7 linked regions of the Homo sapiens genome follow. The protein of the gene in region 1 interacts with the protein of each later gene in a pairwise test. Each region holds a gene or a part of one and is shown in the gene's direction. Other genes may lie near its edges. The genes, in order: NLRP12, WAC, UBXN2B, CHST15, SH3BP2, MYO1F and SECTM1.

The links.
Region 2: the proteins of NLRP12 (region 1) and WAC interact in a two-hybrid assay, tested with the Homo sapiens proteins (one large-scale study listed by IntAct).
Region 3: the proteins of NLRP12 (region 1) and UBXN2B interact in a two-hybrid assay, tested with the Homo sapiens proteins (one large-scale study listed by IntAct).
Region 4: the proteins of NLRP12 (region 1) and CHST15 interact in a two-hybrid assay, tested with the Homo sapiens proteins (one large-scale study listed by IntAct).
Region 5: the proteins of NLRP12 (region 1) and SH3BP2 interact in a two-hybrid assay, tested with the Homo sapiens proteins (one large-scale study listed by IntAct).
Region 6: the proteins of NLRP12 (region 1) and MYO1F interact in a two-hybrid assay, tested with the Homo sapiens proteins (one large-scale study listed by IntAct).
Region 7: the proteins of NLRP12 (region 1) and SECTM1 interact in a two-hybrid assay, tested with the Homo sapiens proteins (one large-scale study listed by IntAct).

Annotation. Positions count from the first base shown.
Region 1 is NC_000019.10:53,810,815-53,814,314, reverse strand, and holds part of NLRP12 (NACHT, LRR and PYD domains-containing protein 12), read left to right. Parts: intron 1-3,026; coding exon 3,027-3,500. UniProt on the Homo sapiens protein: Plays an essential role as an potent mitigator of inflammation. Primarily expressed in dendritic cells and macrophages, inhibits both canonical and non-canonical NF-kappa-B and ERK activation pathways.
Region 2 is NC_000010.11:28,606,118-28,609,617, forward strand, and holds part of WAC (WW domain-containing adapter protein with coiled-coil), read left to right. Parts: intron 1-2,068; coding exon 2,069-2,314; exon of another isoform or gene 2,315-2,325; intron 2,326-3,500.
Region 3 is NC_000008.11:58,410,184-58,414,160, forward strand, and holds the start of UBXN2B (UBX domain-containing protein 2B), read left to right. Parts: upstream 1-1,177; 5' UTR 1,178-1,202; coding exon 1,203-1,286; intron 1,287-3,977. UniProt on the Homo sapiens protein: Adapter protein required for Golgi and endoplasmic reticulum biogenesis. Involved in Golgi and endoplasmic reticulum maintenance during interphase and in their reassembly at the end of mitosis.
Region 4 is NC_000010.11:124,041,599-124,045,098, reverse strand, and holds part of CHST15 (carbohydrate sulfotransferase 15), read left to right. Parts: intron 1-179; coding exon 180-519; intron 520-2,651; coding exon 2,652-2,798; intron 2,799-3,500. UniProt on the Homo sapiens protein: Sulfotransferase that transfers sulfate from 3'-phosphoadenosine 5'-phosphosulfate (PAPS) to the C-6 hydroxyl group of the GalNAc 4-sulfate residue of chondroitin sulfate A and forms chondroitin sulfate E containing GlcA-GalNAc(4,6-SO(4)) repeating units.
Region 5 is NC_000004.12:2,827,585-2,831,084, forward strand, and holds part of SH3BP2 (SH3 domain-binding protein 2), read left to right. Parts: intron 1-21; coding exon 22-90; intron 91-1,908; coding exon 1,909-2,563; intron 2,564-3,500. UniProt on the Homo sapiens protein: Binds differentially to the SH3 domains of certain proteins of signal transduction pathways. Binds to phosphatidylinositols; linking the hemopoietic tyrosine kinase fes to the cytoplasmic membrane in a phosphorylation dependent mechanism.
Region 6 is NC_000019.10:8,546,443-8,549,942, reverse strand, and holds part of MYO1F (unconventional myosin-If), read left to right. Parts: intron 1-1,625; coding exon 1,626-1,706; intron 1,707-1,820; coding exon 1,821-1,907; intron 1,908-2,617; exon of another isoform or gene 2,618-3,500. UniProt on the Homo sapiens protein: Myosins are actin-based motor molecules with ATPase activity. Unconventional myosins serve in intracellular movements. Their highly divergent tails are presumed to bind to membranous compartments, which would be moved relative to actin filaments.
Region 7 is NC_000017.11:82,323,767-82,327,266, reverse strand, and holds part of SECTM1 (secreted and transmembrane protein 1 precursor), read left to right. Parts: 5' UTR 1-26; coding exon 27-120; intron 121-2,376; coding exon 2,377-2,685; intron 2,686-3,500. UniProt on the Homo sapiens protein: May be involved in thymocyte signaling.

The DNA of each region.
Region 1 (3,500 bases):
CACATCCACGTAACCCACTGGTCAGTACTGGGGAATCTGCCCATTCTCAGAGCAACCACTGACAGAGGGGAACGAGGTTACTCATGACTGATTTAGCAAAACCATAATTCATCCTCTGAGGCTTGTGAAGGGGCAGGATTCACCACTCACTCGAGTCATGAATCAGCATCCACCAACCAAACAGAATCAGGTTTGCTGGCAGGGAAGAAACCGGGGTACAGTCTGCTGGGTAGACAGCAACACTGTTAACAATGCCACAAATGTTTCTGGCTATTTTTTTCAAGGGGAGCATGAAATGAATCTAGTCTCCAGCTCTACTAAAGTAGAATAAGAGTGGGTTCACCAGCTGAGCAAGGTGGCTCACGCCTGTAATCCCTGCACTTTGGGAGGCCAGGCTCTGAGACCAGCCTGGGCAACAAGCAAGACCCCATCTCTACAAAAAAAAACAAAAAATCGAACATTAGCTGGGCATGGAAACTTGTGCCTGTAGATCCAGCTACTCAGGAGGCTGAGGTGGGAGGATTAGTTGAGCCCAGGAGGTTGAAGTTGCAGTGAGCCAAGGTCACGCCACTGCACTCCAGCCTGGGGGGAGTGAGAAAGACCCTGTCTCAAAAAAAAAGGCGGGAGAGGGGTACAAATATTGTATGATTCCACTTATCTAAGGCACCTAGAGTAGTCAAATTCAGAGGCGGAAAGTAGAACAGCAGTTGCCACGCCCGGCATGGTGGCTCACGCCTGTAATCCCAGCACTTTAGGAGGCTCAGGCGGGCAGATCATGAGGTCAGGAGATCGAGACCATCCTGGCTAACACGGTGAAACCTTGTCTCTACTAAAAATACAAAAAAATTAGCCAGGCGTGGTGGCAGGCACCTGTAGTCTGAGCTACTTGGGAGGCTGAGGCAGGAGAATGGTGTGAGCCTGGGAGGCGGAGCTTGCAGTAAGCCGAATCGTGCCGCCGCACTCCAGCCCAGGTGACAGAGCAAGACTCTGTCTCAAAAAAAAAAAAAAAAAAAAAGAAAAGAAAAAAAAAAAAGAATAGCAGTTGCCAGGGAGAGGAGAAATTATGAGTTAATATTTAATGGATATGGAGTTTCTGTTTAGAATGCTGAAAGCATTCTGGAAATAGACATTGGCGGCCAGGCACAGTGGCTCACGTCTGTAATTCCAGCACTTTGAGAGGCCGAGGCGGGCAGATCACTTGAGGTCAGGAGTTCGAAACCAGCCTGGCCAACATGGTGAAACTCCGTCTCTACTAAAAATACAAAAATCAGCTGGGTGTGGTGGCGAGCACCTGTAAATCGAGTTACTCAGGAGACTGAGGCAGGAGAATCACTTGAGCCTGGGAGGCGGAGTTTGCAGTGAGCCTAGATCATGCCACTGCACTCCAGCCTGGGGGACAGAGCAACACTCTGTCTCAAAAAAAAAAAAAAAAAGAGATATTGATGATTGCACAACATCGTGAACTTAGTGTCACAGAGTTGTACGCTTTAAAGTGGTTAAAATGGTAAATTTTATGTGTATGTCACTATAATTAAAAGTACACATATTTGTTTTGAAAATTTTAGTATCAAACTCAGATTCTTTTTTTTAAGCTTCTCTCAGGCAGCTATCATGGGCCTCTGCTGGCATCCAATACCAAGGGATGCATTTGTATCCAGACCAGGGTTTCTCCACATTGGCACTGTTGGCATTTCGGGGCCAGAGCGTTCTTTGCTATGGGGTCGTCCTGTGGTTCCTGGGATGTTGAGCAGCACCTCTGGCCTCTATCCACTATGTGGCAGTAGTACTTTCCCAGTTGTAACAACCAACCCACTTGTCCCGTTGCCAAATGTCCCCTGGGGAACTAGGGGACACAGTCACCCCAATTAAGAACATTGTTCTAGATTTTTTTTTTTTTTTTTTGAGGCAGAGTCTCACGCTGTCGCCCAGGCTGGAGTGCAGTGGGGCGATCTCTTACAGGTGTGAGCCACTGCACTTAGCCCAGGGACTGCATTTCTAACAAGATTGCTGCATGATATGTATGCGTCTTAAAGTTGGAGAAGCACAGCCAGGCATGGTGGTTCATGCCTGTAATCTCAGCATTTTGCGGGGCTCAGGCAGGAGGATTGTTTGAGGCTAGTAGTTGTAGACCAGCCTGGATAACACAGCAAGACCCTGTCTGTACTGAAAAAAAAAAAAAGTTTGAGAAGCACTGCTCCCAAGTTTTCTGTGCCCCCTTTGTTTTCTCTTTCTTTTGTTTTTATAGAGACAGGGTCTCACTATGTTGCTCCGGCTGGTCTCAAACTCCTGAGTTCAGGCGATCCTCCCACCTGGACCTCCCAAAGTGCTGGGATTACAGGCGTGAGCCACCGCACCTGGCTTGTGCCCCCTTTGAAAAAAGGCAGATTCATGTCTGCACTATCTGGTAATGTACCCGTTCTATAAATCCTTTGCTGAAAGTCACTTTGTGGGGCTGGACACAGTGGCTCATGCCTCTAATCCTAGCACTTTGGAAGGCCGAGGTGGGCAGATCATGAGGTCAAGAGATCGAGACCATCCTGGCCAACATAGTGAAACCCCGTCTCTACTAAAAATACAAAAATTAGCCAGGCCTGGTGGCATGTGCCTGTAATCCCAGCTACTCGGGAGGCTGAGACTGGAGAATCACTTGAACCCAGGAGGTGGATGTTGCAGGGAGCACACCATTGCACTCCAAGCTGGGCAACAGAGCGAGACTCCATCTAAAAAAAAAAAAAATTAGCCAGTCTTATAACCTAGTCTCAAAACAAATAAATTATTTTAATTAAAAAAAATTTTTTTTTGAGATGGAGTCTGGCTCTGTTGCCCAGGCTAGAGTGCAGTGGTGCGATCTCAGCTCACTGCAACCTCCACCTCAGGGGTTCAAGTGATTCTCCCATCTCAGCCTCCTGAGTAGCTGGAACTACAGGCACACACCTTCTTTGAGCCACATGAGGAGCGCTTTACCTCGTGAACTCATTAGAGGCTGCTGATGAGTCTTCCACAAAACCTTCATTCCTCTCCCCTAGATCCCCAGGAAACCTACAGGGACTATGTCCGCAGGAAATTCCGGCTCATGGAAGACCGCAATGCGCGCCTAGGGGAATGTGTCAACCTCAGCCACCGGTACACCCGGCTCCTGCTGGTGAAGGAGCACTCAAACCCCATGCAGGTCCAGCAGCAGCTTCTGGACACAGGCCGGGGACACGCGAGGACCGTGGGACACCAGGCTAGCCCCATCAAGATAGAGACCCTCTTTGAGCCAGACGAGGAGCGCCCCGAGCCACCGCGCACCGTGGTCATGCAAGGCGCGGCAGGGATAGGCAAGTCCATGCTGGCACACAAGGTGATGCTGGACTGGGCGGACGGGAAGCTCTTCCAAGGCAGATTTGATTATCTCTTCTACATCAACTGCAGGGAGATGAACCAGAGTGCCACGGAATGCAGCATGCAAGACCTCATCTTCAGCTGCTGGCCTGAGCCCAGCGCGCCTCTCCAGGAGC
Region 2 (3,500 bases), on another chromosome or scaffold:
CACGGCTTAATGCAGCCACGACTTCGTGGCTCAGGTGGTTCTCCCACCTCAGCTTCCTGAGTAGCTGGGACCACAGGCGCAAGCCACCACAGCTGGCTAATTTTTTGTATTTTTAGTAGAGACGGGGTTTTGCCGTGTTGCCCAGGCCGGTCTTGGAAATCCTGGGCTCAAGCCTTGCAAAATGCTGGGATTATAGGCGTGAGCCACCACGTCCATCTGACAGCAGAATTTTCGCAAGGAAAACATTTATCGTTTTATTTGAGTTTCTTTATGCTTGTCTATGAATCCAGAACAGTAAAGCTGAAAATAATAGGCAGTCTGCTGGATTCAAGCACCTTCCTTTAAAAGTGTATACCCTTACGCAAATAAAAATATCTTAGTCCTTCTGAGTTCATCATGGTTAATCAACACATTTTTGAAATGTACTTAAATCAGCTGTGAGATCCACACTTTAGAGAGCTATTATCCCTAGTTCTTTCGACCATTATAGTAGTGTAAAAAGACTCATAGGGGAGTCTGTTTTCAATAAGCTTGCTAGTACTGTATATATGATCTTGAAAATCTTAAAGAAATAGGTTGTTTCTAGTTTTATACTAAAAGCAAACAGAGTGCTGTTGTGATAGTCTTTGAATTTTCTCCTGATTTACATATATCTGAGTTTCACTGAGGGTGTGTACCTAAAGGGGAATTACTGGGTCATGTAGTGTTCGTATCTTCAACTTTTCTAAATAATGCCAAATTACTTTCCAGTGTGGTTATATCAATTTATTATCCATCAGAAATGTTGAGTAAATGTTCTCATTACTCTTTGCCAACATTTGGTATGTCTGACTTTAAAATTTTTGCATTATGGTGAGTGTAAAGGGTTATGTTGCTTTATTTTACATTGTCCTGATTCTGAATGAAGTTGAGCATCTTTTCTTGAATTTCCTAGGCATTCAAGTTCCTTCTTTGAAATAATGTCTTCTGTACATTTTTCTATTGGGCAGTTTGTCTATTTTGACGTATAGAAATTCTTTAAATAGTCTGATTACCACTACTTTGAATATAATTGTTCTGCTTTTTGTAACTTTACACATCTGCTTGGTGTTATGGATACCTTTCTGTGTTTTCCTCTAAGAGTTTTAAAGACTTAAATACCTACACAAAAGTTCAGTCTACCTTTAACTGGCTTTGTTTTAAATGTAAGTTTTTATATTTGGCAGGGCATGTCCTGCTGGCAGTGTTCTTTTTCTTCAGGTTATGGAATCTTCAGGATTTATGTTACTAGCTTGTCAAATAGTATTAACAGTGCTCTTGGGGCTTTGATTACAGTTACATTAAATCTATATAAATAATTGAAACAACAGCTTTCAAATAATTTTCCATGCGTATTTTATACATCCTTTATTTCTAAATACTATGAGGTGGGTTGTTTTTAATATTAAAGTGTCCTTTTTAATAATCTTAAAATGAAACAAATAGCTCATTGCCTTATATATTGAATTACAAAAGGGAAGTATGTAGTTACAAAACTCAGTTATTAAGTATAAAAGTCTCTTCTCATCACATCTTTAGCCCATTTTGGGTGTAACCACCTTGGTGTACCTACCCTGATTTGTATTAAGACCAGTGTCTTATTGAGGTAGGTTGTTACTGTGGCCATAAACATTTTTCACCTTATTTCATGAGATATAAATTAAATCCTGTAGAATTATATTGTCCTTTTATCCTAATGGAAGCTTATTTGAATGTGTGGTTAATAAATAATTATCTTTGAGATAGCATTGGTGGTAGACAGATTGGTACTTTTCAAATCAGATATGGGTATGATTTACCAGGTTTTATGGCTTCAGGTTATCTAACCTTTCTTGTTCAGCTTTCTTACCTATGAAATAGGGTGAGAAATGTCTAAATCATTATTCTAGTCATGTGAATGTTTACTGAGCATCTTCTGTGTGCTCCAGTGTGTAAGGGTTAAATGAGATTACTTACGTTAGGTGCCTGGCACATGAGAGGTGTTCCTTTGATGTTTGTTCCAATTTTCTCTATTCAGGTAATTTTTCAGGCTGATTATCTTTTTATTTAGAATCTACATCAGGAGACAAACCCGTATCACATTCTTGCACAACTCCTTCCACGTCTTCTGCCTCTGGACTGAACCCCACATCTGCACCTCCAACATCTGCTTCAGCGGTCCCTGTTTCTCCTGTTCCACAGTCGCCAATACCTCCCTTACTTCAGGACCCAAATCTTCTTAGACAATTGCTTCCTGCTTTGCAAGCCACGCTGCAGCTTAATAATTCTAATGTGGACATATCTAAAATAAATGAAGGTAAATCTTCATAACAGTTTTTTAAAAATTTATTTGCATTGTGCAAAGTTATGTAAGTAGTAAAATCCCCAGTTTAGGAATGGTCTTTGTTTTCTTTTGAAATTTATAGTTGAACACTTTTTTTTGTTTTGTTTTTTGTTTTTGGAGTTTGGAAATTTATATCCACTGTAGTTTAAGACCATTGGTAGTATAATTGAGTTAGTGGTGCTTGGATCTTGTGTATATTTTTCAATACTTGTTATGTGTCTGGTAGTTACTGGAGGTAAGCCATTCTATATACATAATGTGTATGGTGAAATTTTACATTAAAACAATCGAGCGTTTGTTGAAATCGGTATTAAAACTTCTGGTATGTTTCTAAAAAACCTGTATAAATAATTACTCAGAATATTTAAAATATGCTAATTACTAGAAAAGTAGGAATTCAGGTAGCTACTTAAAATACTTTCAAAAAATTCTGAGAAGGGAGGAGATAGGTACTAGATAAAATGTTGCCATTTTTTTCCTGGTGAATTGCATTATTTAATTCCAGCCTTGCTTTTCAGTAATGCTACTTACGTTTCAGAATATTTAGTCAGCCACTTTGAAAAAGTATGAATAAAAGTAGATGTGTTAATTTGGAAACTATTCAGATTCACACGTTAATTCCTAAAAGCACTGCAAAATTTTCTGTTGAAAATGATAAATTTTTAGGCCGAGGCGGGTGGATCACCTGAGGTCAGGAGTTTGAAACCAGCCTGACCAAGATGGTGAAACGCTATCTCTAATAAAAATACAAAAGTTAACCAGGCGTGATGGCACATGCCTGTGAATCCCAGCTACTCGGGAGGCTGAGGTACGAGAATCGCTTGAACCCAGGAGACGGAGGTTGCAGTGAGCTGAGATGGTGCCTGTACACTCCAACCTGGCTGACAGAGCAAGACCCCATCTCAAAATAAATAAAAATAAAGTGATCAATTTTTATGTACATTTTCACATAATATACTTAAAAGTAGTGTTAAGTGGTTAAGTTCTTATCCTAAAAATAAAGCTATCTCAGGCTAGTTGGTCATTAGTCTGTTCTTACTGTCCTTAATTTTTTTGTATTTTTATTTTATTCTCTAACCACGCAGTTCTCTTGTGTGGTAGGTAAATGTTTCATTTAGGCAAAGTGGGGCTTTTAGATAGTTTGAGGAGGCCAGATGCA
Region 3 (3,977 bases), on another chromosome or scaffold:
GTGGGCAGATCATGAGGTCAGGAGATCAAGACCATCCTGGCCAACATGGTGAAACCCCGTCTTTACTAAAAATACAAAAGTTAGCCGGGCATGGCGGCACGCACCTGTAGTCCAAGCTACTCGGGAGGCTGAGGCAGGAGAATTGCTTGAACCCGGGAGGTGGAGGCTGCAGTGAGCCGAGGTCGCGCCACTGCACTCCAGCTTGGGCGACAGAGCGAGGCTCCGTCTCAAAAACAAAAAGTGCCTAGGATAAGAAGACCAGAGTCTAAATCAATTTCAGTTGAATGACGAGGGCTTGATAGTCTCGAGATCTGCTTTTTTTCTTTTTTGAGACGGATCCTCCCTGTGTCGCCAGGCTGGAGTGCAGTGGCGCGATCTCGGCTCACTGCAACCTCCGACTCCCTGATTCAAGCGATTCTCCTGCCTCAGTCTCCCCAGTAGCTCGGACTACAGGCACGCTCCGCCACGCCCAGCTAATTTTTGTGTATATATATATATATATATGTGTATATATATGTATATATATGTGTATATATATATGTGTGTGTATATATGTGTATATATATATGTGTGTGTATATATATATATATATATATATATATATATATTTTTTTTTTTAGTAGAGAAGGGGTTTCACCATGTTGGCCAGGATGGTCTCGATCACCTCGTCCGCCTCGGCCTCCCAAAGTGCTGGGACTACAGGCGTGAGCCACAGGCCCGGCAGAGTTCTGCTTTTAGCAAATTATTCCAAGCACTTTTTACGGTGTTTTTCACTCTCAGTGCTAATTCACGCTGTGGTGACGATGTACCATCCAATCCTTGATAGGAAAGATCAGAGAATCTGACCAAGACTAGATGGAGAGGTTGCAATTTTTCATCAGATGAAAAATCCAGAGGATGTTTTCATTGTTGAGCTAAATGAATCTGCAAGTCTATGCTGCCCTCTAGGGCGGCCTACAGTGCCTTTAGGCGAGTAGCAGGAGCAACACAAAACTTAACAGAGGTTTCCCTGCGGAGAAACTCCCTTTAAGAAAAAAGGAGAAACCAAAAAGGTGGGCCAGCACCGGAAGCGGGGGCGCGGGTTCGGGTAGCGGGGACGCGCACGCACCTTGCGCGTCTTCGCCCCTCCTGCGGTTGCCAGGCAACCGGCCCCGGAAGTTGCGGCAGGTGCGTCCGCAGCGGGCGCCGCTAGCCAGCGGAAGATGGCGGAGGGCGGAGGCCCTGAGCCCGGCGAGCAGGAGAGGAGGTCTTCCGGGCCGCGGCCTCCGAGCGCGCGGGATTTGCAGGTGAGGCGAGGAGCCGGGGGAGGGAGCGCGGCGGTGGACGCGGGCTGGTGACGGCGCGGGCTGGTGCGAGTTGGAGGCCACCTCTGGCCTCGGCGGAGCCTTTCCCCGACCCCGTCTGGGGATAGAATCCGGCGCCCGGTCTCCCGATGTCGGGTCTTGACACTGTGGTGGTCGTGAACACAAGTGCCCAAGCCTCCAGCGCTGGTGCTTTGTCTCCCTTCCACCCCACGTATGATGTAAAAATAGCTATTCGTTTAGAATGACATTTTGCGGGGTCAGTTGGTCGGTTCACGGGTTGATGCTTCCTTCTTGAGACTTACTCCAGAAGAAAGGTTACTGTGGCCGCAGGGAAGTAGACAGTCACCTGAACAGTAATGATACGTGATTTGTTCTTTTTTGTCTTGGATGCTATTTCTGACTTGCTTACTTAAATATAAAAATGGTTCCATTTTATCAGGTAGGTTTTTCTTTTAAAGGGGTGAAGGAAAGCGATGCACTCTATGCCCATACAGCCTAGTTGTCTAAGCTGTGGTCTTTAAAACATTGCACTGAAGAAACTGGGAAATAAAATTTCGTAATGTTGTGTAGGACACTAGTATTAGTTAGCTAAATAGTAGCGCACCAAATCCCGTTTTATCAGATACTAACGCCACTTTTCTCATTTTAGGCGTTTTTGTGTCTCATTATAAGATTATTGATAAAAATTTGACAAGTAAATATCAGTAAGGAGATACTAAGGAGAATCTTGGTAGAACAGTTTTACTGTATTACTTTACAACCACACTTCATTCTAATGTGAACAAACCACCATCCATTGTAACATACTGCTGAGCTTTGCGAATGTGGAAATAAGGACATCAAATCCTTAGTCGGTGCTGAACTCTATTGATGGGTAGGTATGTAAGTGTAAAAGACAGTTCTACCTTTTGGAAGCCTACAGATTTCTTCGGAGAAATAGGGTATGAATACTTAGCATAACATTTTAAGATGGAGTATGATTGGGTGCCAAAATAAGCAGTGCATAAAGCGAAGAATTTGGAGGCTGGAGAGATCAGTGTAACATTAGGAGGTGAACTTAATGTAGAATAGTTCCAGCTCCCATAGTTGGTTCAGTAGTAGTAAACAGTATCAAGGGATAGGAAGCTATTGTGTACCTCATCTTTCCTATTATAAACCCACATCACTAAGAGGCAGCATGGAGTTAGTAGTCCCACCAATTTTGGTTTGCCTCTTAGTCCTGCTACTTAGTAGTTTTGTGAACTTAGGAGAAATGTCTTAACCTGTCTGATCCTGTGTCTTCATTTGTAAACTGAGGAAGGTCAGGGTGCTGGTGGTGGTGTAAGGATTAAATAATGTTATAAAGGGCCTATGCAAAATTCCTACATTATCCTGGCTCAGTTGTTGCTGGGCAAATATTTGATTCCTTTTTCCTCAGGAGAAAGATGCTATAACTTTCCCTGGCTAGTCAATTCTAATATCATTAAAGTTAATAGAGTGTGTAACTTAATGTCCTTTCCCTAATTTAAATCCATTTCTTCTTTTTATGTGAAAAGTGAGAACAGCTTGCTTAATGACCACCTGATTCTTGGCAAATTGTTTGCAGTCTTAATCCAGTGGATCAAAGTACGATTAATGTTTGGAGATACTCTGGTAGATGTTGCTAATTGTGAGAATGCCTTCATTTCCACCCTAAGTTATGATGGGGATTTTTTTTTTCATCTCCTGTCTACTTGTTGTAGGTTAGGGCAGTAGGAAGATAACTGATTTCTTTATGAATGTGATTTGGTGTATCAAGTACAGTATCTAAGTATTGATAATCTTTCCTTTAGAACTTAATATGAATGTGAAGAACTTGCAAAGAAACTTGAAAACAGCCAAAGGGATGGCATATCAAGAAATAAAGTATGTATCAAAAGTTTAAAAGAATTAAATAATGTTCTTCCCAAATGGTACCTTGGATATTGATTATTTATAGATTATCTTGTTACCGTTTAATCTAGACATGCTTTTCTTAAGAGTTACGCAGTTCGTGCAGCTTTCAGTAGATATTTCTTACTTCCCTAACAGCTTGCTCTAAGAGTCTTTCAGAGTGAGTAAAGGGGCAACATATTACCAATTGGAACAAGCAGAATTACCCCTGAGTAAGTGTATCTTAGCTGCCATGCAGTGTAGGGTTTGTCAGCATCTGAATCAGGAGGGAGTGTTCCAGGTACCACCAGAGAAAAGCTGCATAGTTGCTTCCCAAAAGGCCTCCCAGCCCTGGGAGCCCCCAGGTTACAAACTGCAGACTCGGAAATGTTTTTTTGCATATCAGAGTAGATTTTCATAGCTCCCTTCATCCCCCTCAAATAAGGAGATGGTCATGGGGAAAGTTAGGGGTGGGATTGTTAGTGGCAAAACTAAGCCCAAAACCTCACCAGTGTTCAATAGTATTTCTGAATTGCTTTCTCTTCTGGTGTCCCTCAGCCCGCCACACACATGTTCATTAAGGTATTTAGTTGTATACTCTGTCCCAGTTTTCCTCCACATATTATCTGTTTCTACATAGGTTGGACGGGGAGGGAGTGGGAACAGGGATAACTTCAGTATTGTTAGGGTTAGGATTGGATTTGTTAGGATGGACTCAATAGTGGGTACTATAAATGAGAAGAATTAAAATGTCTGATAGCTGTTCTGATAACTGTGTTGCCA
Region 4 (3,500 bases), on another chromosome or scaffold:
GAGAGGAAAGCACAGTCATTGACCGTCTACCAAGTTTTGCTTTATTTGTTAATCATTGTCAAATATTAGTTCAAATTTGAACACGGTCGTCAGTCTCAGGGCAGGTTCCCATTGCGGTTAGATTGTGTCTTTGCTCATTTTCCCCTCCTCTGTGTCTCTCCTCCTCTGTTTCCTTGCAGATGTTTTCAGTCATCCCCAACAAATTCCTTCCAAACAGTAAGAGCCCCTGTTGGTACGAGGAGTTCTCGGGGCAGAACACCACCGACCCCTACCTCACCAACTCCTACGTGCTCTACTCCAAGCGCTTCCGCTCCACCTTCGACGCCCTGCGCAAGGCCTTCTGGGGCCACCTGGCGCACGCGCACGGGAAGCACTTCCGCCTGCGCTGCCTGCCGCACTTCTACATCATAGGGCAGCCCAAGTGCGGGACCACAGACCTCTATGACCGCCTGCGGCTGCACCCTGAGGTCAAGTTCTCCGCCATCAAGGAGCCACACTGGTGGACCCGGAAGCGCTTTGGTGAGTGCTGGGTCCCAGGGCTCCTGTCTGGTCTCGTTCCTTCATTCGTTCATTCCTCCCGCAACGTTAGCGCTGGGGTTGGGGGGCGAGGGCGGCAGAAAGAGATGGCACAATTCCCTTGTTAGGAGGCTGTTCCCAGGCAAAGACCCAGCAGGGTCTGGAACTCGGTTCCCAGCCATGCAGTGAGCATTGATTGCCAGCTGTGTGCAGGACACGGGGACGAGTCAGAACTGGCAGCTCTTCTTGTTCCGAAAGCCCGGGCACATGACCCGAGCAGTCAGCAGTAAGTGCCAGTGGCCAGTAAGGGCCAGCAAGAAGGGCGTGATCCGGGCTCTTGGCTCCCAGCTCTGTGCTATTCCCTGCTCTGTGCCGCTCCCAGCTCTGTGCCGCTCCCAAGCTCTGTGCCGCTCCCAAGCTCTGTGCCGTTTCCTGCTCTGTGCCGGTCCTCTGCTCTGTGCCGTTCCTCTGCTCTGTGCCGTTCCCTGCTCTGTGCCGCTCCCTGCTCTGTGTTGTTCCCCTGCTCTGTGCTGTTCCTTGGCTCTGTGCTGCTCCCTGCTCTGTGCTGCTCCCTGCTCTGTGCTGTTCCTCTGCTCTGTGCTGCTCCCTGCTCTGTGCTGCTCCCTGCTCTGTGCTGTTCCCCTGCTCTGTGCTGTTCCCCTGCTCTGTGCTGTTCCCCTGCTCTGTGCTGTTCCTCTGCTCTGTGCTGTTCTCAGCTATGTGCTGTTCCAGCTGCAGTCACTGCACCTGGGGGAGACTGAGTTGCTTCAGGCCTCAGCTTCTCTGACCTGCCCCATCTGCCTTATGGGTTCCATATGATAACCACATGGAGATCATTCTGGAGGCCTTGCTCTCAGCCCTTTGCCGCAGGCTTACCATGACCACTGCCCATCCCTCTCTGCTCCAGCTTAACCCCATGCACCCTGCGGTCCTCAGATCACTGTTTCCTCTCTGTAACCTTTTCCTTGTGCCAGGAGAGGTTTGGTCACTGGAGCTGAGGGGTGATACGTGCCTATTGTCAACCAGAGTCCTGGCAGGCCACGAGGGTGTTTTCCAGTAATGGACTCAGGTTGACTAGAAGGGAATCTTCAAAGTTTTCCCTAGACCAACTCTTAATGTGTTTCCTGACAAACGTTTGCTTTCATCCTTTTGATGTTCGTCCTACAGTGAGCTAAAGTGTAAATGTTTCTTTTGTGGTTTAGCAGCCGCCACTGTAGGAGCCAGGGTTTCACATCCCTATGCATTTGCTGGACGTGTCTGAACACACTCCCTTGCTGTAGGGTGCTCCCCCGAGGCTCACAGTGATTTCCCCTTAATGAAAACCAGCTTTCTACCGGCAGGAAAGGAGGAAGAACAGAGGCGGGCCTCTGGAATCTAGTCTTCAATGTCACCTTGAACCTCTTGTTACTTTGGCCACGGATGTTCTCTTTCCAATTTCCATTGACTTCAGGAGTTGTGGTGTTGGGAAGTGGATTTTTAAATGTTTGCAAGTGAAATTTATTTATTTTTCAGGCAGGGGGTGAATTTAAGCTGTATGTGGCCGATGCCAGAATCCATGTCTGTCTAGAGTATGATCAGTTCCCCTTACTGTTTGGACAAAGGGCAGGGTATTTGATTGAACAGGGGGAGGAGAGAGAACATCAGGCAGGTGCTGGCTGGGCCCCATGAGGAAGGCATCATGGAGTTTATAGGATACTGCCCTTCTCTCTCCTGTGGGCAGCCCTCGGTCCTCTCTCCCTGTTTGACACAACACATGCATCCTGGGTGTCATCGCTGCCCAGCCACTTACGAGTCCCACCTGTGCACAAGTTAACCAGCCCCAGACTTTGTCCCTCCAAGCAGACATGTTTCTAGCTCTTGAGTAGGTGTTCCAGCCTTTAATCTGCCACTGTCTAGCTTAGTGGTGGTATCTTCCAGCCCTTGAAGCATGCATGGATTGAAGTGGGTAGCCAGGCCGCATAGACCCCCACCCCCATCCCCAGCAGCCCTTTCTGAAGCTTACCTGGGCTGAGCCTCTTGCTGCTGTCGCCAGGCCCTTTAGGCCTTTCCATCTCTCTTTGGTTGCTGTCTGGGAGGCCATCGCTCCAGCAGTAGCAACTTTGTCCTCAGTATCTCCTGCTTCTTGGTTCTCATAGGAATCGTCCGCCTAAGAGATGGGCTGCGAGACCGCTATCCCGTGGAAGATTATCTGGACCTCTTTGACCTGGCCGCACACCAGATCCATCAAGGACTGCAGGCCAGCTCTGCAAAGGAGCAGAGCAAGATGAATACAATCATTATCGGTAAGGCGTCTGTGTCACTCTGGCAGGGCTAGCACCCTCCCTGGGGTCCTGGCTCTGGCTCCAGGCCTAGCCCAGCTCTGCTTCACCTCCAGAACATTTACATGGTGGCAGCAAACTTCTTTTGAGCCTCCACTTCTCCACCTGGCTGTCACTCTTACCACTACATAAAATGTTCACATCACTTGAACATTACTATAAAGTGGAAATGTTGACTTTCTAATTCTTTGGAGACTTAAGGACAGCTGATGGCTTTCTTGAGAAGTTGCCATTTCTTTGTTTTTAAGAAATTAAGCAGGGATATTGACTTCTTTTCCTGATGTACTGATCTGATAAGTTTGGATGGGGGAATTATAAGTGCAGTTAACTGGTTAGTCATCGATTTGCTGCTTGGGGCTTTTGTAATCCCTGGCCACTGGGACCATATAAGACGGAGGCAGCTTCTCCTGAAATAGACTCAGCTCTGACACATCGCCTATAACTAATTGCTGTTTAAAAAGCCTAGCCCCTGTCAACCTCATGCCTTTGGGCATTCAAAGTGAGGTTGATTAATAATAATTTGTTTTAAATATTCACAAGAATATTTTATAAGTAAACATACATATTTACTCTTTAAAATTTATTTTTTATTGTATAATTTAAGGTGTACAGCATACTGTGATGTTTCGATGGAAATAGAGACAGTGAAATGATTGCTACAGTAAA
Region 5 (3,500 bases), on another chromosome or scaffold:
CACCCCCCTCTCCCCATGCAGACTATGAGCACGACGATGAGGATGACTCCTACCTGGAGCCTGACTCCCCGGAGCCCGGAAGGCTTGAGGGTAGGTGGGGCGGGTGGGCCCGGGGAGCTCTGGGTGTGTAGGAAGCAGGGGCTGGGACCGGGAGCAGAGCCCCTCCGAGGCTGGGGATGCTGGCCCAGGTACCGCTCTGGGTGGCTTCCGCTTCCCTGCTGTGTCCCAAGTATTATGAGGATTGGAGCAGAAGAGGTGTAGCTGCTGCCACCTCTGCTCATTTCCTCCTCCCACCTCCCAGGAGGAGGGACAGGCACATGGCGATAAGTGGCAGGTGGAGCCGGGGTGGCCCTGGGGGTTAAGCATGGGGAAGGAAGGACGCTGAGGAGCGCGCAGGCTCAGGGCAGGTCCATGTCCCCATGGCTGCCAGCTTGTGTGGACACTGCTGCAGGCCAGGTCGTTGTCCCACCCCACCCCATCCCATCCCAGTGTCCACCTACCTCCTGCAGCACATGGCCTAGTCAAAGAGACAGGCTGATACAGGTGGTCACACGTGGATGACGGAAGCACGAGCTGGGTGGGGAGGACGTGTCTCTGTCCTCCTCTGTCGCCTCCCTCCCTTCCTCCCTCCCTATTGTCTCTCCAGCCCCCTCATCTTGTCAATTTCCTCATGTCTGGGGCTGATCCTTGATCCTTCCATTTTCCCTGCGTCCGCCCTGCCTCCTTGTTTTCCAGCCTCCTGTTCTCACTGACTTGGCCTCTGCCGACCCCAGCCCCTGACCCCGTATCCTCTCTGCCTCCCATCCACTCCCACCTTCAGGCTCCCGGGTCCAGCCCCTCTTCTCCTGCCGCTCCCTCCCTCCTTCCCTCTGGGGTCCCAGTGCCAACAGTCCTTCAGCCCACGAGGGTCTGCGGGCCGCTTGCCTCAGTTTCCTTCCATGCAGAGCTCTTGTCTCACAGTGTTCACCATGCCTGTCCCTTCGCCCACACACTACTGCCTTCCGTCTTAGCCTGGCTGGCCAAGCCTTGGTGAACTCAGACTCCGTCTGCCCAGCCCTGAGCTGCAGCCCAGTGAGGCTAGAGATGGGCCTGGGGAGCCACCAGTGCTCCTGCATGCTACTGCTCCACTCACCCTCCCTCTGTACCCCCTTCATCCTCTCCCCGAGACATTTCTCGTCCAGGACGCCTGTGGCCTCCCCATTCCCAGTTCCAGCGCTCAGTCCTGAGCCACACCAGCCTGGCGCCTGCCCTGTTCCTTGCCAGCCCGTCCTCCAGGCGCCCCGTGCTCCCGGGGTCCTCTTTCTCCTCAGCTCCTGTGCTGGCCCCATGAGGGATACCCGGGACTCAGACCTCACTCCTCTCCCGAATTCCCTGGGTGACAGCCTGGGTCATCTGCAGGCTGCCCGCTCCGAGTCATGTCCAGCCTGGATTTTTGAACTCTGCACACATTCCCTGACCCCGCATCCCCTGGCATCTCCCAGCTTTCTGGATATGTTCTGAGCAAACACGGGCCTTCACCTTCCTCCCAGCTGCTCCCCTCCCCTGTCCTTGGGAATTCCGTCCTCCCTCTCGCTCCAGCCGAGCCCTGAGATCCTTCTTGACTTCTCTTCCTTTCTCTTCCTTCCACCTCTGGGAACCTGATGGGCTCCTCAGGTGTCCTCTAGGCTTCAGGAAGCGTCCACAGGCTGCCATAGGGAGGATGAATGGGGAAGGCTGGGGGTGGTGGGTGGTCTGGGACCCTGGGGAAGGCAGGATGGGAGTGCTGGGTGCTGGGCTGCTGGGTGGGCAGGCTGTGGGGTGGGCCTACCATGGGTTGCACTCCTGGTTGGCCTGGCTGACCACTGCCAGCAGAGGATAGTGTTGGCCCAGTCTCTGTCAGGGTCCAACCCGGGTCTCTTTGCTCTGCAGATGCCCTGATGCACCCACCGGCTTACCCACCACCCCCAGTGCCCACGCCCAGGAAGCCAGCCTTCTCTGACATGCCCCGGGCCCACTCCTTTACCTCCAAGGGCCCCGGTCCCCTACTGCCACCCCCGCCCCCTAAGCACGGCCTCCCAGATGTTGGCCTGGCTGCTGAGGACTCCAAGAGGGACCCACTGTGCCCGAGGCGGGCTGAGCCTTGCCCCAGGGTACCTGCTACCCCCCGAAGGATGAGCGATCCCCCTCTGAGCACCATGCCCACCGCACCCGGCCTCCGGAAACCCCCTTGCTTCCGGGAGAGTGCCAGCCCCAGCCCGGAGCCCTGGACCCCTGGCCACGGGGCCTGCTCCACTTCCAGTGCTGCCATCATGGCCACTGCCACCTCCAGAAACTGTGACAAACTCAAGTCCTTCCACCTGTCCCCCCGAGGACCACCCACATCTGAGCCCCCACCTGTGCCAGCCAACAAGCCCAAGTTCCTGAAGATAGCTGAAGAGGACCCCCCAAGGGAGGCAGCCATGCCCGGACTCTTTGTGCCCCCCGTGGCTCCCCGGCCTCCTGCGCTGAAGCTGCCAGTGCCTGAGGCCATGGCGCGGCCCGCAGTCCTGCCCAGGCCAGAGAAGCCGCAGCTCCCGCACCTCCAGTGAGTTTGTGTGGCGGCTGCAAGCCCTGCCTCCAGCTACAGGGACCCTGGCCTGGCCTCTGACGGGCACTCTGCCCACCTCGCTCCCCTGGCACTCTTAGCCCACGACGGGGTACCAGGTGCAAGGGTAGGAAGGTTCCCGGTTGCCTCCAGTCCGCCTTGGTGGAACGTGGAGCATGTCCATGACTCAGCCCTGAAGCTTGCTGGAAATGCTTTGTTTTTTTTTCTTTTTGAGACAGGGTCTCACGCTGGCAACCAAGCTGGAGTGCAGTGGTGCGATCTCAGCTCACTGCAACCTCCACCTCCGGGGTTCAGGTGATTCTCCTGCCTCAGCCTCCCAAGTAGCTGGGACTACAGGCACCTGCCAACACGCCCGGCTAATTTTTGTATTTTTAGTAGAGACAGGGGTTTCACTATGTTGGCCAGGTTGGTCTTGAACTCCTGGTCTCAAGTGATCCGCCTGCCTCGGCCTCTCAAAGTGTAGAGATTACGGGCGTGAGCCACCGCGTCCTGCTGAAATGCTTTCTGCTTTATTTCTGGGAAGTGCCAGGAGACCAGTTTGTCCCCCACTCCCACAGAGTTACGCCAATGGCTGTGGTCAAAGGCATCTGGGACCCCAGGTGGGCTTCCTGCCTTGCCTGGCAGGCAAAGGGTCCAGGAACTGGAGGGGCAGGTTTCGCATGGGTGTGCTGGCCGGCACGCGCACCCCCGAATGCCCTTGCCCACGGTGCCCTTCTCCCAGGGCTCTGCGAACACCTCTGAGATGCCTGCTGCCTGTGTGGAAGTGCCTCTGAGCAGCCCTTGTCACACTCGTGGTTCTAGTTCACCAAGGGCTGCAGAGATGCAGATGTTCGGAAGTCACGTTTTTCCATGACTGTGGGGATAGCGGTTCCAGGGCTCAGCCTCACCCACAGGCTGGCCTCCCATGCTGGCGTGG
Region 6 (3,500 bases), about 45 Mb from region 1:
TGTAGTTCTGGCTACTCAGAGGGCTGAGGTTGGGGGATCATTTGAACCCAGGAGGTTGGGGCTGCAGTGAGCTATGATTGCGCTATTGTACTCCAGCCTGGGTGACAGAGCAAGACCCTGTCTCTAAAAAAAACTTTTGGCCAGATGCAGTGGCTCATGCCTGTAATCCCAGCACTTTGGGAGGCTGAGGTGGATGGATCACTTGAGGTCTGGAGTTTGAGACCAGCCTGGCCAACATGGTGAAACCCCCTCTCTACTAAAAATTACCCGGGAGTGGTGGCACATGCCTTTAATCCCAGCTACTTGGGAGGCTGAGGGAGGAGAATCACTTGAACCTGGGAGGTGGAGGTTGCAGTGAGCTGAGATCGTGCTATTGTATTCCAGCCTGGGCAACAGAGAGAGACTCTGTCTCAAAATAAATAAATAAATAAAATAAAAACTTTTTTAATGTATGGAGTCAGCCTGGGCAACATGGCAAAACCCTGTCTCTACAAAAATACAAAAATTAGCCGGGCATGGTGGCTGGTGCCTGTAATCCCGGCTACTCAGGAGGCTGAGGTGGAAGAATCCCTGACCCCAGGAGGTTGAGGCTGTAGTGAGCCATGATCAAGCCACTACACTCCAGCCTGGACAACAGACTGAGACCCTGTCTCAAAATAAAAAATAAAAATAAATAAAGTATAAAATGTATGGCCAGGTGCAGTGGCTCATGCCTGTAATCCCAGCACTTTGGGAGGTCAAAGCGGGCAGATCACCCAAGGTCAGGAGTTCAAGATCAGCCCTGGCCAGCATGGCAAAACCCCGTCTCTACTAAAAATACAAGAATTAGCCGGGCGTGGTGGCGCATGCCTGTAATCCCAGCTACTTGGGAGGCTGAGGCAGAAGAATCTCTTGAATCCTGGAGGCAGAGGTTTCAGTGAGCCGAGATTGCGCCACTGGCATTCCAGCCTGGGCAACAGAATGAGACTCCATCTCAAAAAAAATAGAAAAGAAAAAGCCCCATAAGGTAGTTGCTATTATCAACCCCTTTTAAAGATAAGAAAATAGAGGTGCAAGGCCGGGCGCAGTGGCTCACACCTGTAATCCCGGCACTTTGGGAGGCCGAGGCGGGCGGATCACGAGGTCAGGAGATCGAGACCACAGTGAAACCCCGTCTCTACTAAAAATACAAAAAATTAGCCGGGCGTGGTGGCAGGCCCTTGTAGTTCCAGCTACTTGGGAGGCTGAGGCAGGAGAATGGTGTGAACCCTGGAGGCGGAGCTTGCAGTGAGCCGAGATCATGCCACTGCACTCCAGCCTGGGCGACAGAGTGAGACTCCGTCTCAAAAAAAAAAAAGAAAAAAAAAAAAAGAAAATAGAGGTGCAGAGAGGTTCAGGGGCAGAGTCAGCTCTGGAGTCAGGGACCCTGATACACTGACACTTGGGTTTCTCCTCTGAGTGACTGATTATGGGGTGGGGAGACTGTACACAGAGCCAGGAAGGGCAGAGCTAAAGAGGGCTGGAGGGAAACTGGCATGAGGGGACATCACCCATGAAGTTGGCTAGGCGTGTGTCTAAGGAGTGGTGGGCAGGGGCTTCAGATCTGACCGATGCCCACTGACTTCCTGTCCCCACCCACACCGCAGGCCATCAACCGTGCTATGCAGAAACCCCAGGAAGAGTACAGCATCGGTGTGCTGGACATTTACGGCTTCGAGATCTTCCAGGTACGGCCCCCTGCCTCCAGCCCACATCCTGTCCTCCCTGGGGCAGCCCAGGGTGGCCACAAGAACTTCCAGCACCAGGACATTGAGGGAAGGACCCTTTTCCTCCTTCTGCAGAAAAATGGCTTCGAGCAGTTTTGCATCAACTTCGTCAATGAGAAGCTGCAGCAAATCTTTATCGAACTTACCCTGAAGGCCGAGCAGGTGGGCGGCCAAGCAGTCAGGGATGGGGGATCCTGGGGTGGGGGTGGGGTGGAAGGACCATGAGGATCCCTTAGCAACTAGGGGACACCCCAGCCCTCCCCACCGCGTTCCCACCTCTCTGTGCCAACCTACCCAGGCTCCATAGTGATACTTCCTTCTGCCTCTAAAGCTTTGGGAAGGACCGTGCCTCTTAGTTCATTCATTCAGCAATTATTTATTGAGCACCTGTTGTGTGCCAGGTACTGTTTAGGGTGCTTGGAGACACAGCCATGAACAATAAGGCAATAGTCCCTGCTGTCTTCATTTTGCCCCTCCCCCAGAAGCAGAGCCTGAGGCAAGGATTCAGAGACAAATGGTTTTTCTGGGAGGCAATCCCAGGAAGCTCCAAGAGGAGACTGAGGAAGTAAGTCAGGGATTTTTTTTTTTTTTTTTGAGACAAAGTCTCGTTCTGTCACCCAGGCTGGAGTGCAGTGGCATGATCTCGGCTCACTGCAACCTCCGCCTCCAGAGTTCAAGTGATTCTCCTGCCTCAGCCTCCCGAGCAGCTGGGACTACAGGCACCCACCACCATGCCCAGCTAATTTTTGTATTTTTAGTAGAGACAGGGTTTCATCATATTGGCCAGACTGGTCTCAAACTCCTGACCTCGTGATCCACCCACCTCAGCCTCCCAAAGTGCTGGGATTACAGATGGGAGCCACCATTCCCCGCTTTTTTTTTTTTTTTTTTTTTTTTGAGACAGGAACTCGCTCTGTTGTCCAGGCTGGAGTGCAGTGGTGTGATCACAGGTCACTGCAGTCTACACCTCCTGGGCTCAAGCAATCCTCCCACTTCAGCCTCTCAAGTAGCTGGGACCGCAGGCACACACCATCATGCCTGGCTAATATTTTAAAACTTTTTTGTAGAGTTGGTGTTTCACTTTGTTGCCCAGATTGGTCTTGAACTCCTGGCCTCAAGCAATCCTCCTGCCTTGGCCTGCCAAAGTGCTGGGACTACAGGCATGAGTTAATATGCCCAGTCCTGAGACAGGGATTTTTTTAACAAAGAGAGAGAGAGAGGCTGGGTGCAGTGGCTCACGCCTGTAATCCCAGCACTTTGGGAGGCTGAGGTGGGTGGATCACCTGAGGTCAGGAGTTTGAGACCAGCCTGGCCAACATGGTGAAACCCCATCTCTACTAAAAATATAAAACTTAGCCAGGTGTGGTGCTGGGCACCTGTAATCCCAGCTACTCAGGAGTCTGAGGCAGGAGAATTGCTTGAACCCAGGAGGCAGAGCTTGTAGTGAGTCGAGATTGTGCCATTGCACTCCAGCCTGGGCAACAGCAGAATGAGACCCTGTCTCAAAAAAGAAAAGAAAAAAAGAGAGAGACAGACCGAGCCAGACACAATCACTCACACCTATAGTCCCAGCTATCTAGGAGGCTAAGTTAAGAGGATCGCTTGAGCCTGGGGGTTCAAAGCCAGCCTGGACAACATAGTGAGACCTCATCTCTACAAAAAACATAAAAATTAGCCAGGCATGGTGGTGTGCTCCTACGGTCCCAGCTACTCGGAAGGCTGAGATGAGAGGATCACTTGAACCCTGGAGGTCAA
Region 7 (3,500 bases), on another chromosome or scaffold:
GACCAGGGGCCCAAGTCCCACCAGCCATGCAGACCTGCCCCCTGGCATTCCCTGGCCACGTTTCCCAGGCCCTTGGGACCCTCCTGTTTTTGGCTGCCTCCTTGAGTGCTCAGAATGAAGGTAGGTCTCGGGGCCCCGCCTCTCTGCTGGGGAAAGGGGGGCCCGGTGGGGGCATGACAGGGGCAGGAGGGGTGGACTGAGGTTGGGTCCAGGTGCCACCAGACCCCCGATAATGACTGACTCTGCAGACCCAGGGCCTGACCATGTGGAGCTGGGCTGCCTCAGGTGGCGGTGAGTGGACCGTGTCCCGCCGTGGGTGGAGGGTGGTGGTGAGTGGGCCGTGTCCCGCCGTGGGTGGAGGGCGGTGGTGCCCGCTGTGGTACCTGGTGGTCACTGTCAGAGCAATTGTGGGGAAGGACCAAGATCACGACCAGTTTCCAAGGGAGAGGGTCTGGGTCAGTTGCGACCTGTGCCATGGCCGGGAACAGACAGCAGCCCTGGCCTGGGGGCTCCTTAGTCAGGCGCACCTCAGGCCTGCCAGGAGTGGATCTGCATTTGAACAGGGTCCCCCAGTGAGATCCTCCCCAGCTCTCTAGATCCCCAACCTGTCAGCAAAGTGACCTGAGGGGCTTTTCTTTTCTTATCTTTTTTTTTTGAGACGGGTTCTACCTCTATCGCCCAGGCTGGACGCCCAGGCTGGAGTGCAGTGGTACAATCACAGCTCACCGCAGCCTCGACCTCCTGGGCTCAGGTGATCCTCCCACCTCAGCCTCCCGAGTAGCTGGGACTACAGGCATGCACACCATACCTGGCTAAATTGTGTATTTTTTGTAGAGATGGGGTTTTGCCATGTTGCTCAGGCTGGTCTCAAACTCCTGGGCTCAAGTGATCCTCCCACCTCGGCCTCCCAAAGTGCTGGGATTACAGGCGTGAGCCACTGAGCCACCCGAGGGGCTTTTAAAAGATGTCAGAGCTCAGCCACATCCCAAACCACATCCCAAAGCAGTTCAGTCAGAATCCTAAGAACGAACAAAAAACAAAACAAAACTGAAAGGGAAGAATCCCAGGTGGAAGAACCCTGGTTTCGGGAGATTCTGCCCCCACCCCCCAACAGTGGTTCCAAAGTGTAACTGGGCTGGGGCACCCCCTGGACAGCCGCCCGCTGCCCTCGGGACGGTGTGAATTTGTGCAGTGGCCTTAGAGGCCCTGCAGTCCCTGAACACTCAGAGCGTCCAGGCAGGCAGCCAGCCTGCTCGTCAGAGGAAACTCAGTCCAGCCCGAAGGCCAGGTGCCCCTGAAGCCCACCTCCTCCCATGGGCACCAAGGCCCCTGGCACTTGCCAGCACATGGCACCCACCATGTGGTTTTGTATTTGGTGAAATGTGGCCAAATGGCGGCTCCAACCAGCATGCTGTGTGCTCCCCGAGAGCTCACCCTGCCGTCCGTCTGTCCGTCCATCCGTCCGTGTCCAGTCACTGGTGGACGCTGACGCAGCAGGGACAGTAGCAGCACCAAGACCTCAGGCTGGTACCATGCTCGGGCCCGACGGCCTGAATCTCAGGCATCCTTGAGCTGGCTGCTGGGGCAAAGGCCCCAGACCCTCTGAGGGAAGCAGCTGCACGGGTCGCTATGGGGCAGGGTTCACCCAGGAGGCGGGAGAGAGAGACTGACACGCCGGCTTGTGTCAAGGACTTGACCTCCCAGGACTGTGGAGCTGTGTATGGAGCTGGCCCAGCAACCTGGAGCTGAGCGGGTGGCCGGGAGGGGAAAGGGAATGTTGGGGGTGGCACAAGCAGGCTGGGCCCCACAAGGACAGGCTGGAACCCATGTCTGCTCTGCTTGCCTCTGAGGCTGGCCTGTGGGTGTCTGCAGAAGCCCTGCCCTTCCTCACGCAGCCGAGCACCTGCACCTGGCCTAGGCCTTGGAGAAACAGGAGGGAGCTGGGGGCGGTGGGGCCTGGCCACTGCTTCCCACGAGGAGGGTGATTCGGCAGGTCAGTGGCAGCACTCCTGCCACAGCGCAGCCGCCCGGCACACACCTGAGGCTCTGACTTCACCCACCCCAGTGGAAATATACAGGGGAGGGAGTTGATAGGAAATGCCTTCGTCCAAGCTGACACACCCCAAGGAACAGACGTGGGTGTGAGCACGCACACACACACACATACACACACACAGAGCCACCCGTCTTTTTTGTTGCTATTTTATTCTTCCCACACGAGATATATGTGCTGATTGGGTCGGGTGGATGTATACATAGTTCACTGTGTCCCTTAGAGGCCCTGTCTCCTGCCCTGGCCCTGGCCCTGGGCACAGCAGCCAGCCAATGCCCTGAGGTCCAGCCCTGATCCGTGTGTGCCTCTGTCTGGCCCTACAGGCTGGGACAGCCCCATCTGCACAGAGGGGGTAGTCTCTGTGTCTTGGGGCGAGAACACCGTCATGTCCTGCAACATCTCCAACGCCTTCTCCCATGTCAACATCAAGCTGCGTGCCCACGGGCAGGAGAGCGCCATCTTCAATGAGGTGGCTCCAGGCTACTTCTCCCGGGACGGCTGGCAGCTCCAGGTTCAGGGAGGCGTGGCACAGCTGGTGATCAAAGGCGCCCGGGACTCCCATGCTGGGCTGTACATGTGGCACCTCGTGGGACACCAGAGAAATAACAGACAAGTCACGCTGGAGGTTTCAGGTGAGGGGAGGCTCGGGGAAGCAAGGGGGAGGGGAGTGAGAGGGGACACGGGGAGGGGAGGGGGCCTGGGCAGGGGGAGGGCTGAGACTGAGAGGGAAGGAGGAGGAAGAAGAGCAGGCATGAGCCGGGCTGCCAGGAGACAGGGTTGGCGGGTAGAGAGTTGGGGTGGAGGCCTCTTGACCTCCTGGGACAGTTCTTCCTTTGGGAGGGGCAGGGGTCAGGCAGGAGGCTCAGGGGGCACAGACCCCACAGTGGGGTGGGACCCACAGAGGGCAGCCGGAGTCCCACAAACAACACAGAACACAAAGCTGCTCCTCAAAGGAGCCCAGTCTGCCTGTCAGGGGTGGGGGCTGCACCCTGCAGCCAGGAAGCCCAGGCACCCCCCGCCTCCCTGCCACCCCCACCCCGGCTGTGTGGGGAAACTGCACCCCAAATACCTGTGCTCTGAGAGGCCCTCCAGACCCGCAGCACCTGGCTTCGAGGCACCTGCCCTCCCTTTACTGGGGTCACCCAGAGGTGCTCAAGGTCGCCCGCGCAGCACCCTTAGTGACCACGAACAGGGGCCTCCCAGGCTGCCACGGTCCTGCCCCGCCCCTCCCACTCCCACTCCCATGTTGTCCACCTCGACAAGCACCTAGACCACACCTGCCCTCGCCACTCCTGTCTTCAGGGCTGGGACCACCCCCGACCCTTCTCTGTCCCCACCCCTCTCCTCCTGCCCTCAGGGGATGCTCGCTGCCCCACTCTCTGCCTCAGCTCCCCCGACACAGGCATGATCACCACCCACTCATGTCCCCACTAGCCCAGCCCACTGC